Homo sapiens: one gene and its partners. The protein of the gene in region 2 interacts with the protein of the main gene of each other region in a pairwise test. Each region holds a gene or a part of one and is shown on either strand. Other genes may lie near its edges. The genes, in order: SMAP1, PRR20B and TBX3.

The links.
Region 1: the proteins of PRR20B (region 2) and SMAP1 interact in a two-hybrid assay, tested with the Homo sapiens proteins (one large-scale study listed by BioGRID).
Region 3: the proteins of PRR20B (region 2) and TBX3 interact in a two-hybrid assay, tested with the Homo sapiens proteins (one large-scale study listed by BioGRID).

What each region holds. Positions count from the first base shown.
Region 1 is NC_000006.12:70,730,299-70,733,949, forward strand, and holds part of SMAP1 (stromal membrane-associated protein 1), read left to right. Parts: intron 1-2,079; coding exon 2,080-2,213; intron 2,214-3,651. UniProt on the Homo sapiens protein: GTPase activating protein that acts on ARF6. Plays a role in clathrin-dependent endocytosis. May play a role in erythropoiesis.
Region 2 is NC_000013.11:57,146,206-57,150,324, reverse strand, and holds the start of PRR20B (proline-rich protein 20B), read right to left. Parts: upstream 2,838-4,119; 5' UTR 2,624-2,837; intron 2,470-2,623; 5' UTR 2,451-2,469; coding exon 2,399-2,450; intron 1,378-2,398; coding exon 764-1,377; 3' UTR 1-763.
Region 3 is NC_000012.12:114,677,638-114,681,288, reverse strand, and holds part of TBX3 (T-box transcription factor TBX3), read left to right. Parts: intron 1-142; coding exon 143-410; intron 411-1,316; coding exon of another isoform or gene 1,317-1,376; intron 1,377-1,637; coding exon 1,638-1,784; intron 1,785-3,632; coding exon 3,633-3,651.

The DNA of each region.
Region 1 (3,651 bases), on a different chromosome or scaffold from region 2:
CTCTCACCTTGGCTTCCCAAGTGCAGGGATTATAGGTGTGAGCCACTGTTTCTGGCCCACTGCATATCTGTTTAACCTTTCTTAGTTTGAGACTTACTTGCTAAAAATAATTAAACCCTCCAGCTATTGCTCTGTAACTATTTACCTTAATGTGTAAGCTTCAAAACAGATAGATAACGTTGTAAATTGTTGTGTTAGAAATGATGAGACAGAGTGGAAAGTAACTGGGGGAGGCAGCTCTATCTAGAGTTGTCACAGATGTCCCAGATGTATGTTTGCCAGTTTATAGATGTAATTTCTCAAATTTAAAAGCAGGATATTTGAGGATAAGTTGCATGTGCATAATCTTCCTCCTGTGTAATTAAGGAATTTGGGGGGGCATTATTTTTAATTTTACTATATTGTACTTACTAGCTTTAATGTTGTTGTGTAGAGCAGTGTCACCTTTAGATAAACAGCATGTACTTAAAACAGAAGGCTATGTTTAAAAAAAGCTTTATTTTTAATTTTTAATTTTTTGATACAGAGTCTCTCTCTGTCACCCAGGCTGGAGTACAGTGGCGGGATCTCGACTCACTGCAATCTCTGCCTCTGAGGTTCAAGTGATTCTCTTGCCTCAGCCTCCTGAGGAGCTGGTATTACAGGCACCTGCCACCATGCCTGGCTAATTTTTGTATTTTTAGTAGAGACCGGATTTCACCAGGTTGGCCAGGCTGTTCTCAAACTCCTGACCTCAAGTGATCCGCCTGCCTTGGCCTCCCAAAGTGCTGGGATTACAGGCATGAGCCACTGTGTCCAGCTACTTGATTTTTATTGATATCTCTTACTATATACATACATTTTTCATAATCAACTAATTTATAGAAGTCTGTTAGTAATATGATTCTGAATATTTGGCATATTTTCCAGATATTGCTTTTATTTTTCCATTTTTACTTTATTAATTTTACAAGCAATATGTGAAAAAATCTGAAGCAATTTTTAAAATTATTATGAAAGAATATATTCAAAGGTATGAAGACTTGTACAGCTAAGACTTGTATTCTTGTATTCATATGTGAGTTTTTTGGCAGTGTTTTTCAGAACTTTTTGACCATGAACTGAAGAACTAACATTTTGTAGCACACCTCAGTTCATATATGCGTATTATATGTTACTGAAACAAAAGTTTATATTCTTGCCATACAGCTTAGCAATTGAGTGCTACTATTGCTCTCCAAGCCCACAGTGAACTTTTCCCTGATCACATCCTCTTTCCTTACCACCAGTTACCTGCCTCAGTTTCACGAAATTTGTAGATACATTTAATTAATATGCAGTATGCTATTATTTTACATATTTTTCAATTTATGTAAATGGTTTCACACTGTATATATTCATCTGTGACCTTTTTTAATGTCAGTGTTATATTTGAGATTTAGCCATGTTGATGCAACGCTTTTTGAAGCAGTCCTTGTTTCCCCTTCTTGCCAACAATTAGTAGTTAAAAATTTTTTTTTCCAGAATGTTGGGTGCAAAATGGAAGTAACTGTAGAGTTAAAGAGCACTTTCACTAATTACCAGTGAGACTGTGCATATTTTCATGCTTATTGGCCATAAATTTCTTCTGTGAATTATTCATTCATATCTTTTTGCTTATTTCGCATTGGGCTGGTTGTCTTTTTCTTATTAATTTCTACATTTAATTTTTGAAATGTCTTTGATTTTTTATTTGTTGTTAATCTTGTGCATATCTTATGCATTTAATAAAGAAATTATTTTTACAGTAGGGTATTATTACTATTCCTGATTCAAATATGCTAAGTGAAGAAGCTGTTTATATAAATTAGTTTTAAAATCTTAGAGTGGAGGGGAAGTTTCTAGGAAAGCAAAATGAGTAAAATCAATAAGGTTCTTAAAGATTGCCAAGACACATGTCTTCTTAGCAGACTGCCGCCAGTACCATTTGAAAATTTGAGCATGTGACTTCTGTAAGCTTCCATTATAATTATATAAAACCGAGAATGCTTCTAATATGCTGTTATGTTTATTTTTGTTTTTAACATTTGCTTTTTTTTGTGGTTTCTTCTTCTAAATTAGGTCCTCGATGGGCTTCCTGGAATATTGGTGTGTTTATTTGCATCAGATGTGCTGGAATTCATAGAAATCTTGGGGTTCATATATCCAGGGTCAAATCAGTCAACCTAGACCAATGGACAGCAGAACAGATACAGGTAAACATGACGTTACCAAGAAATTATTTAAAATATTTAAAATGATTTAAAAATATTTAACCCTTCTTGCATCTAAGGATTAACATTGAAAAGTAGTTTTGTATGTTGAAATGGCATATGCCACGTATAAAATTGGAATATTTGAATTTTCAGTTCACAGATGTTTATTTCATTTTGTGTCTATAGTAAAGTCAGTTTTTAATCTATACTTTCTAAAATGTTGATTTTAAAGTGTTTTTAAAGTATCATTTCTCTTGTTGATAAAATTTGCCAGTATAATTCCATAGTTTGTTTTATTTTTTTTTCAGTGGAGGGAGCCTGGGTAAAGATAAAATAAAAAACCACCTGTAGCCTAAAAATGGACTTGAGTAATTTCCTTTCTGTTCTGAGGTGTTCTTAGTTTTCAGACAAGGCCCAGAAGTTGTAAGACAACCCAGTGAACAAATGTTCTTATGACCAACCTAAACTTACTTATGAGTGGTTTAACTCTGCTAGAGGTAGATTTGTAGTTTTAAAAGTTTGCCATTTTCCCAATGTGACAGTCTTAAATTCTCAAAATCTTACTTTTTATCTTTAAGGTTGGCCACTATTGTAAAAATGAGTACTTCTACTGGTCTTATTATGTAATTCACAGTGAAGTTACACCACTTATTTATGCCCTTTTGAAATTACTTTTAAGTCACTATGAAGTGCTAAATACATAAATATATGTGGTTGAGACTCAGTGATACATCTCAGAATCTTAACCCAATAGTTTACATGAATGGGGTGAAGTAAAGGTAGAAAAACAGAATGGAGATCTTCAGGCTATAAAGTCAAGCATAATTTATTTGGTTCCATCTTAAATTAGTTTTTGAGCTTTTCGCTGGCTAGAGCATAAAGGGAAATGCAATCTTTTATGTACTTTCAAGATCCTTGAGGAGAAAACATACTAGTTATATCAAAGAAGCAGAGCTTTTTAAACACTTCCTGTAAGGCAGTGTTCTTAGTATCTCTGTAGAATATGGTAACAGATGTCATGATGTTGTAAGTCTTTTTTTGTTTGTTTGAGACAGGGTCTTGCTATGTTGCCCAGGCTGGTCTCAAACTCTTGGACTCAAGCGATTCTCCCATGTCAGCCTTCCAAGTAGCTGTGACTATAGGCATGCACCACCATGCCCAGCTGATGTTGTAACTCTTTTTCAAGAAACGTGTGAGGTGTAGCTTGACAGTATAACTTGGTGTTTGTAATGGGTTATGGAGGTACAAAGCATTCACGACCGAAGTATCCTGCTTTTTTAATGGCTTATTTCAAACTAAGGATAAAACACGAGATCCTTCAACAGTTCAGTTATTCAGAAATATTTTTCTCAATTAGGTTGTTGAGAGGAAATGAATAGCAAATTATTTGAGATGGGCAGCTGTATAGCTTAGAGTAGAATTTTGTAATCAGAGGGCT
Region 2 (4,119 bases):
TGGTGAAACATTCAAAATATTCCCATTAAAGCCAGGAGGAAGCCAAGGACACTGCCGTCAAATTACTGATTCCTGGTTTAGCGGTTCCAGTGAGTCATGCACTCTCCTTGCTTCCGTTAACCGCCCCCCCCCCCACCCCAACACCTTTTGTCTGATTCGTCACATGTCCTTTGATCCCCTTTTTCCTCAATCTGTTTGAAATTTTACCTTCTATTCCAATTCATTTAGTGGTTCCCAAAGGGTACCCACGTTGAGACTTAAAAATGTGTCAGTCTAGATTTTTATTGCTCTTATATTCAGCCAGTCTATCGTCTCCAGGCACTAGAGAAGCACTTTAGTAACTTCTAGCTCCTTCTGAGTTTTCGCATGTCCCACATGTCTATATGAGTGTCTTCTGGAATTTTAATTCTAGGTCATCAATCCTTTTTCCAGAATCGTACTTCTCTGGACTTAAGAATACAGTTTCCTAATTTCCATGCTTAGTGATCCTTGTTGCATCCCACTTCTTCCAGGTTGTCTGGGTTGGCTTCTTCTTGGCTGAAAAACGTGACGTGTACTTTCACTGTACATGACAGTTCCATTCCAATCGCCTTGTACAGAAAGGGTGTTTGGCAGCTTGCATGTTGTAAGTTGCGTACTCCAAGTTCAGGGGAAGCTCAGGCTTCAGGTCCAGTCGGGGGAGGAGTGGAGCAGAAGTGGGGCTGGGGGGAACGTCCAGGTGGAAGGAAGGGAGGCTGGGAACAACGTGGGTGGCAGATAGTGGTCAATACGCAATGTCGGTGAGGAACACTGGGACCCCTTGCACGTAGGTGCCCTGGGGGGTTTGAATGACTTGTAAAACCGCTGAGTCACCCAGAGCCCTAAACCCGATGCAGGGATAGAGGGTCAAGACGGGTTGCCAGTCAACAGCCTGAGGCCCAGGAGCAGCGGGCGGCTCCTGAAACCCCAGCTCAGGTTGCGCCACGTCGGGGCCAGGGCCTTCCTGCACAGTTCCAGGCGGAGGACCTGTTTCAGAAAGGGAGAAGGCTGCGGTCTCCGTGATTTCCGGTTCCCCCTGGTGGCCTGGCTCTCCATGGTGGTCCAGTTGGATGTGCACGTCCGGTGCCATCAAGCCTTCTGCCCCCTGTCTCTGGCCAGCGTCCCCGCGGGGCCCAGCCCTTCTGCCACGGCCTCGCCCTGGCCGCCGGCTTCCTCCCCGGCGCCGGCCTCTCTCTGCAGGAGGGGGTGACTCTGGGCGAGCTGGGGGCTGCCGTCTGAAGGGTTTCACGTAAGCGATGGGTTTTGCGGGTTGGGCTGGCTGTGCGGGCCCATCTGCTTCCACGGAGCCTTCAGGGTCCGCAACACAGCAGCCTGGCTCTGGAGGAGGCCCACCTGAGGCTAAAAGAGAAGCGGAGCGTGAGCAGAGAGAGACAGAAGGAACTTCACCCGTCAAGCAGTTATAGGATACTTTTACAAATAAATACTCAGAGAAAAGAGGGATTTCTGAAGTTAAAATTGTGAGAGAAGAAACAAAACTCTCCACGGAAGTTGGAGAATGAAGTTGAGAAGGTCTCCCACAGAACAAAGCAAAAACCTAAAATGATGGAAAGAAGGATGAAATATAAGAGAATTAGAGGTATGCTGTGGCTGAGACATTTCACCAGAAAATTTCAGAGTGCTGAGGAAAAAGAGAAGATTCTAACAGATTCTAGAGAGCGGGAGACAGAGAAAGGAAAAGTCACATGGAAAGGGCTAGGATTCCACATGTCTCAAAAGTCAGACATCTCAAAAGCAGCAGTTCAGTCTAGAACATAACAGAAAATGTCTTCGAAATTTCAAGGGAAATGAATTTCCCACCTAAAATTTCCTGTCCAACCGAAGTTTCGCTGAAGAATCTGGGAGGGGAGAATGAAGATGTTTCAGACAAGCAAGATGTTAAAGAATTTCCTTTCAGTGGATGCTTTATTGTTATGCATCTGTCAAACTAGACAAGATTAAAAGATTTAGGACACTCAGCGTATGAAGGGAAATGTTTTGGAGAACAACGTGGCAACAGCCGGAAAATTCCAACTCCTCCGGGAAAGAACAAGGTGGAAGTACCGGTTTATCATAGATCAAGACGTAGCGTGAGGACTCGCTCTGCTACGGAGAAACAGTAATACAAAACTAAACAGAAGGAAACAGCGACAACAACAGCAAATCTCAGATTTGGGAAATGGGATTACGGTTCGGAAGAGGGAAAGGAATTTCCCAGATGATGTGGAACCCGGGAGCTGACTTCCAACAAGCAGCCCAGGTTGAGGCAGGCTAGGAGAAGGTGAAACAGAGAATGCTTGATTGAGTTTGAGTGTCAACCATTGGGGAAGAATTGGGGAACAGACGAAATTAAAAAGAGAGGAGTGGCAGGCGTTTGATGTACCTTGATTAGGGGCCATGGAGCGAAGTCGCTTCGAAGGCCTTGGTTCCTCCATGAGCAATCGGCGGGAGGGGCTGGGGAGAAAAACAAGAGAGCAAGAACGGATTTAGGAAGACAGAGGTGACAAGGCAGGGGGATGGCCGTGGCCTTTCTAGGGGAATGAGGATTCTGTCCCCAACTGCACCCACCCGAGATCCGTCCACGCCTCCGGGACCCCCAGACACACACCTGATCTTCCCACAGCTGGCTCCGGAGATCTGAAAATTAGGAGACTCTTCGACGAAGAGAGGCCCGAGGAGTCGGAGGTGTCCACAGGTTCACCGCTGTAGCTCTGAGGTAGTCCACCCGCAGCCAGGGAGTCTGGAGGGAGCACGCAGCAGGTTCTGGCTCCGAGCCCAGCAGAAAGCCGACTGCTGGAGGCCGAGCGCCGTCCCTCTTATATGGCAGCAAGGCAGTCGCGTAAGGGACAGGCGTCGTCAGAGGGGGGCCGGCTGGGGCGGGCCTGGCTGGGCTTGCGAGGCGCATTGGGCCAGTCCCCTGCCAGTCAAATGGGGGCCCTTCTGAGATGCCGCCATTTCTAGACGTCCGTGGTTGATTGATTAATCTAATCATCGAGGAAAAAAAATTGCATAATGACCTCTGAGTGTCAGCACAATGAGGTGTGGTGCCCTGAAAGCGGCTGACAGGAAGATGCGATTAGCTTAGATCTGAGCATGGTCAAGGAAAGCATCCAAAGCGGGGATATCTGGGCTGAAATCTGGAACATAACGTTTGAAATTAGTCATCCTGAACCGGGTTGGGAGAGGCAGGGAGGGAGGAAGGGGAGTGAAGAGAGTGTGCTGAGGCCCGGACTGGAAGGGAGCCCGGCACATTCTGGGAATGGACGGGAGGCCAAGTCCAGGCCCGGAGGTGGTGCGAGGTGGAGGCAGGGTCCGCGCAGGAGCTGGTCTTGTTCCAAGGCAGCGGAAAACCGTGGAACGGTGTCCGGCAGCGGGTTAACATTTCAGAAACGACCAGCCTGGCTGTGAAGGAGCGCCAACCCAGGGTCCGCAGAATAAGTCAGGAGAGGCAAGAAGGCTATTGCAGCCCTCGGGGTTGGGCGCAGGGTGCTGTTAGACTGAGACTCAGGGAGGTAGAGGAGGAGAAAGTTCCCTGGTGGGAGAGAAATTTCCAAGAGAAAGCGAGACCCAGTGTGGACAGCCCTTGAGGAAGAGACTGCGGCCTTGGTAGCCCGCCGGTTCATTCAGGCAGAGGTGGACCGAGAACCTGCTCTGAACGGGAAGTTGCGGAGCTTGGCTTGCGCACATCTGGTTGAAGGGGCTTTTGAACTGCCAAGTGAGGATGTCAAGTGGCCTTTTGTAAAAAGAGTCGAGCTCAGCGCGATGGCGACGGGGCTGGAGATGCGTGTGAGACCCACACCGCTGGCTTTTATTGCTGTGGGTGCACTCACGGGTGGAGGAAGACAGCGGGAAACACAGCAGGACGCTGGAGGGGATCCCACAGTGGGTTATTTGGTTGGTTTGCATCCTTGTGTCTTTTACAGAGACGGGTTCTCGCTCTGTAGCCCAGGCTGGAGTGCAGCGGTGCCATCTCGGCTCGCTGCGGCTACTTGGGGTGGGGCGGGGGGGGGGGGGGGGCTGAGATAGGAGAATCAGTTCAAGTGATTCTCCTGTCTCGGCCTCCGGAGTAGCTGGACTACAGGTGAGCGCCACCACATCGGGATA
Region 3 (3,651 bases), on a different chromosome or scaffold from region 2:
CCTCACTCTGAAACATGTAAGCTTATCAGTCACAATATAAAGTCTTAGACTTGGTTTCAATATTATGTGATACATAGGAAATCAAACCCAAGATTACGGGTGGTTTATCTTTCTTTTTCTTTTCTATTCTTTCGTTTTATAGGCGAATGTTTCCTCCATTTAAAGTGAGATGTTCTGGGCTGGATAAAAAAGCCAAATACATTTTATTGATGGACATTATAGCTGCTGATGACTGTCGTTATAAATTTCACAATTCTCGGTGGATGGTGGCTGGTAAGGCCGACCCCGAAATGCCAAAGAGGATGTACATTCACCCGGACAGCCCCGCTACTGGGGAACAGTGGATGTCCAAAGTCGTCACTTTCCACAAACTGAAACTCACCAACAACATTTCAGACAAACATGGATTTGTAAGTTTCATTGCTCTCTTCAGTAAAATTTTCTCCTCCTTCACTCAGTCAAAGGCAGTGCTTCCCATTTCATGAGTTTCAGCCCAGACTTCTCCTTTGCTTCTCCCTAAGCATAGCAAACTTGTCCTCGTCTGGAAAAAGGATTCGGGGTGTTTCTCTCCAAATAATGGAAGGCCTGGCGTTCTAAAAGAAATGGGGCAAGAAAACTTACCGGCTTGTGTTCTATAGCAATTCCAGCTCTTTGGTAGATTCCTGACCTGAGAGTGAAGTTAAAAACCATTTTTTAAGAGCTAAAATCAATTTCAAGGCTATGTATTCCTAAAGGATTTGTTTTGTTTTAAAATATCATACTTCTGTTTTGAAACCAGTGATATTATTTTCTCAGGAGAGTTTACGTTTCGGAGCCTTGACTCTGTTGGTTAAATGGTGTGAATACATTTTTAAAAACTCGTTCTTTTACTAAAAAAAGAATTGGGCTTAGGTGGGAGTCCGGCTTACCCTAAATGAGGCTTAGATCTTCAGAAAAAAATGGTTTGTGTGTTGGGAGTGTATATATGGATTCAGTGACAGTGCTTAGAAACTTAGAAAACTTTCATTGCTTGTAGATATCAGGCAAAGGACCTTTTGCGCCTTTTCCTACCCCTCCCCAACATTTCAATAAAATAAACAGCGTGATAAGCAAGGAGTAAGCAGAAAGATTAGGCCCAGGAAGACGCGAATGGCGCGGAAATATCTTCAGCGGGCAGGAATTGCATTTGAAGCCCTTGATTTGATTAAGGCATAAATATTCCTCTCTAGAGTTCAGCCTTTCAGGGCTTTAAGTGGATTGGGCTCGTCAATTAGTGGGCGCTTAAAGTACTGAATCATTTTGTAAATTAAAATGCATGTTTTTCTCTATCTTTTAAGACTTTGGCCTTCCCAAGTGATCACGCTACGTGGCAGGGGAATTATAGTTTTGGTACTCAGGTAGGCTAGGGTTCAAGGTATGAATGATCCTTAGATGGTGAGGGTGGGGGGGGCCCTTTGGCAACTGAGGAGCAATTTGGATTCTCCAGAAGATAACATCTGTGGAGCGAAACGTACCCAGGGGGTACTCCAAGGAGGTGGGCTCGGTACAAGCGTGGTACCCTGCGGTGGGGAAGATTTCAGCCTGGCAGGGGTCCTAAGATCCCGTTTGTTCTGCTAAATCCTTGTTTTATGTATGTCTCCTCTTCCCTGCCCCTGCAGACTATATTGAACTCCATGCACAAATACCAGCCCCGGTTCCACATTGTAAGAGCCAATGACATCTTGAAACTCCCTTATAGTACATTTCGGACATACTTGTTCCCCGAAACTGAATTCATCGCTGTGACTGCATACCAGAATGATAAGGTAAACTCAAGGGGCTTTCCTTTTTAATGGTGATATTTTGCCTTCCCCTTAAAAGCTGCTTTAAGTCAGGATGAGAAAGTTACAAGAGAGTGGAGACGAGAGTCTTGAGTTGTCTTTTGTGATTTGTGGAGCATTTGGGGGGAAAGGACAATGACACCTCGAGGAGACAGAAAAACACCTTGACTAGGTAGGAACAATGCTGAGCAAAAAAACGCCATACTAATTTTGCCACAGAGAAACTCCTAGAACTGCTGTCATTGATGCCACCCACTCCTCCCCCCCTCTTGGGCTTTGTCCTGTCTGTTTTAAGGTTCATCTTCTTCCCCTTGGGGAAGAAGGATCAAGAAGTCACATTCAAAAGGAACCAGCTAAAAATTTAAGGCAAAAGCCATTTGGGATCCTGGGAGGAGAATCCTAGTAGAGACCAGCTTTTCTCCCCTAGCCAGAAATCCTGAGTAGCTGGTCTGGTTTTTATTACCTTTTATGCTGCTGTGTTATGATGTGTGTGTGTGTGTGCATGTGTGTGCATGCATGCGTGTGGTTGGAAAAACCTACCCTGATCACAGGGTCATATTAATCGAGTTGTCTGAGGCTTTTGAGTTGGGGTGGCCAAAGTCACCACTTCATTTGAATTCCCCCCCTCCCCCAGGCCTGAATCTGGAGGTTAGAAGGATCCCCAAAAGGGAAAGCACCTGATATCTAGAGCTATGGTGGCCTGAAGGTCATGGGCACAGAAAAAGTGACCCTTACTGCTGATTCACCAGTTCCCAGATTGGCTGTTAGCAGTTATGGGGTGGGAGGAGGGACTGAAGACCCCTGCTCTGCAATCCTGGACTTCAAAGAGAGTCCATTTTACCTGACAACACACTTCATTTTGAACTCACTGTCATTGTCACTGTCCTTGGGTCCTCTGTGGACTTCATGATGGGGATGTTCCAGCTAAATTTCTTTAGTGTGAATACCAAAACATGATCTTCTCTCCCTGTGAAACCTGAAGTCTTCAATAGAGCAATTTATTCCAAGAACATGAATCCAACCAAGGGTCCCCCTTTCCACCTCTGAGTAACTCTGTGTATATAACTTCTTCTTCCCACCAAGGGGAAGGGATTTGAAAGATTACACACTATAGCATTTTTCTCAAAGTGCAAAATGCATGTGCCCTCTAGACCCAGAATCCTGTGAAATGAAGTTGTTAATGTAATAATAAAATGTAGCATTTTTGATCAGACAAAAAGGCCATGGGCCTTCTCCACCTAATGGCCATGGCAGAGCATATAAATGAAAACAGATGTTTCCAGTGGTCATTCAGTACTGTAACTGTCAATATTGTAATTTCCTCAAACCACCCCCCAGGCAAAGAAAAAAAAAATTAAACTCACTCCCGCACTCACTCCCGCACAAGGGTAGTGAAACCCCATAAATCATTTATTGGATTCATGGAAAAGGAGTGTGTGTGTGTGTGTGTGTGTGTGTGTGTGTGTGTGAAGGGAGTATGCTATAATTTATGATTAATTGCACTGTATAAAAATCAAAATGAAAGCATAATTTTAAGATCTACAGGTTTTCCCTCTTGATGACTTTGACAACACTTCCATGTCTAAACCCAAACTGTTGGCTGCCCAAAGAAAAGAATTTCTTTGAATAATTTCATCCCCAAATCCCTGGTTTGGCCTCATATAGGAGATACAAGCCCTGCCACAGTTTCCTTATTATCTCCTTTCCCTGGCATATCTATATGACTTCTGTTGGCAGTCACATCTCTAGACTTGTTGAGTTGGGAAAAACACCCTCAAAACATTCTAGAAAATGAGAACAATGTCTCTGTCTTGCTTGTGTCTCTTCCAATAGATAACCCAGTTAAAAATAG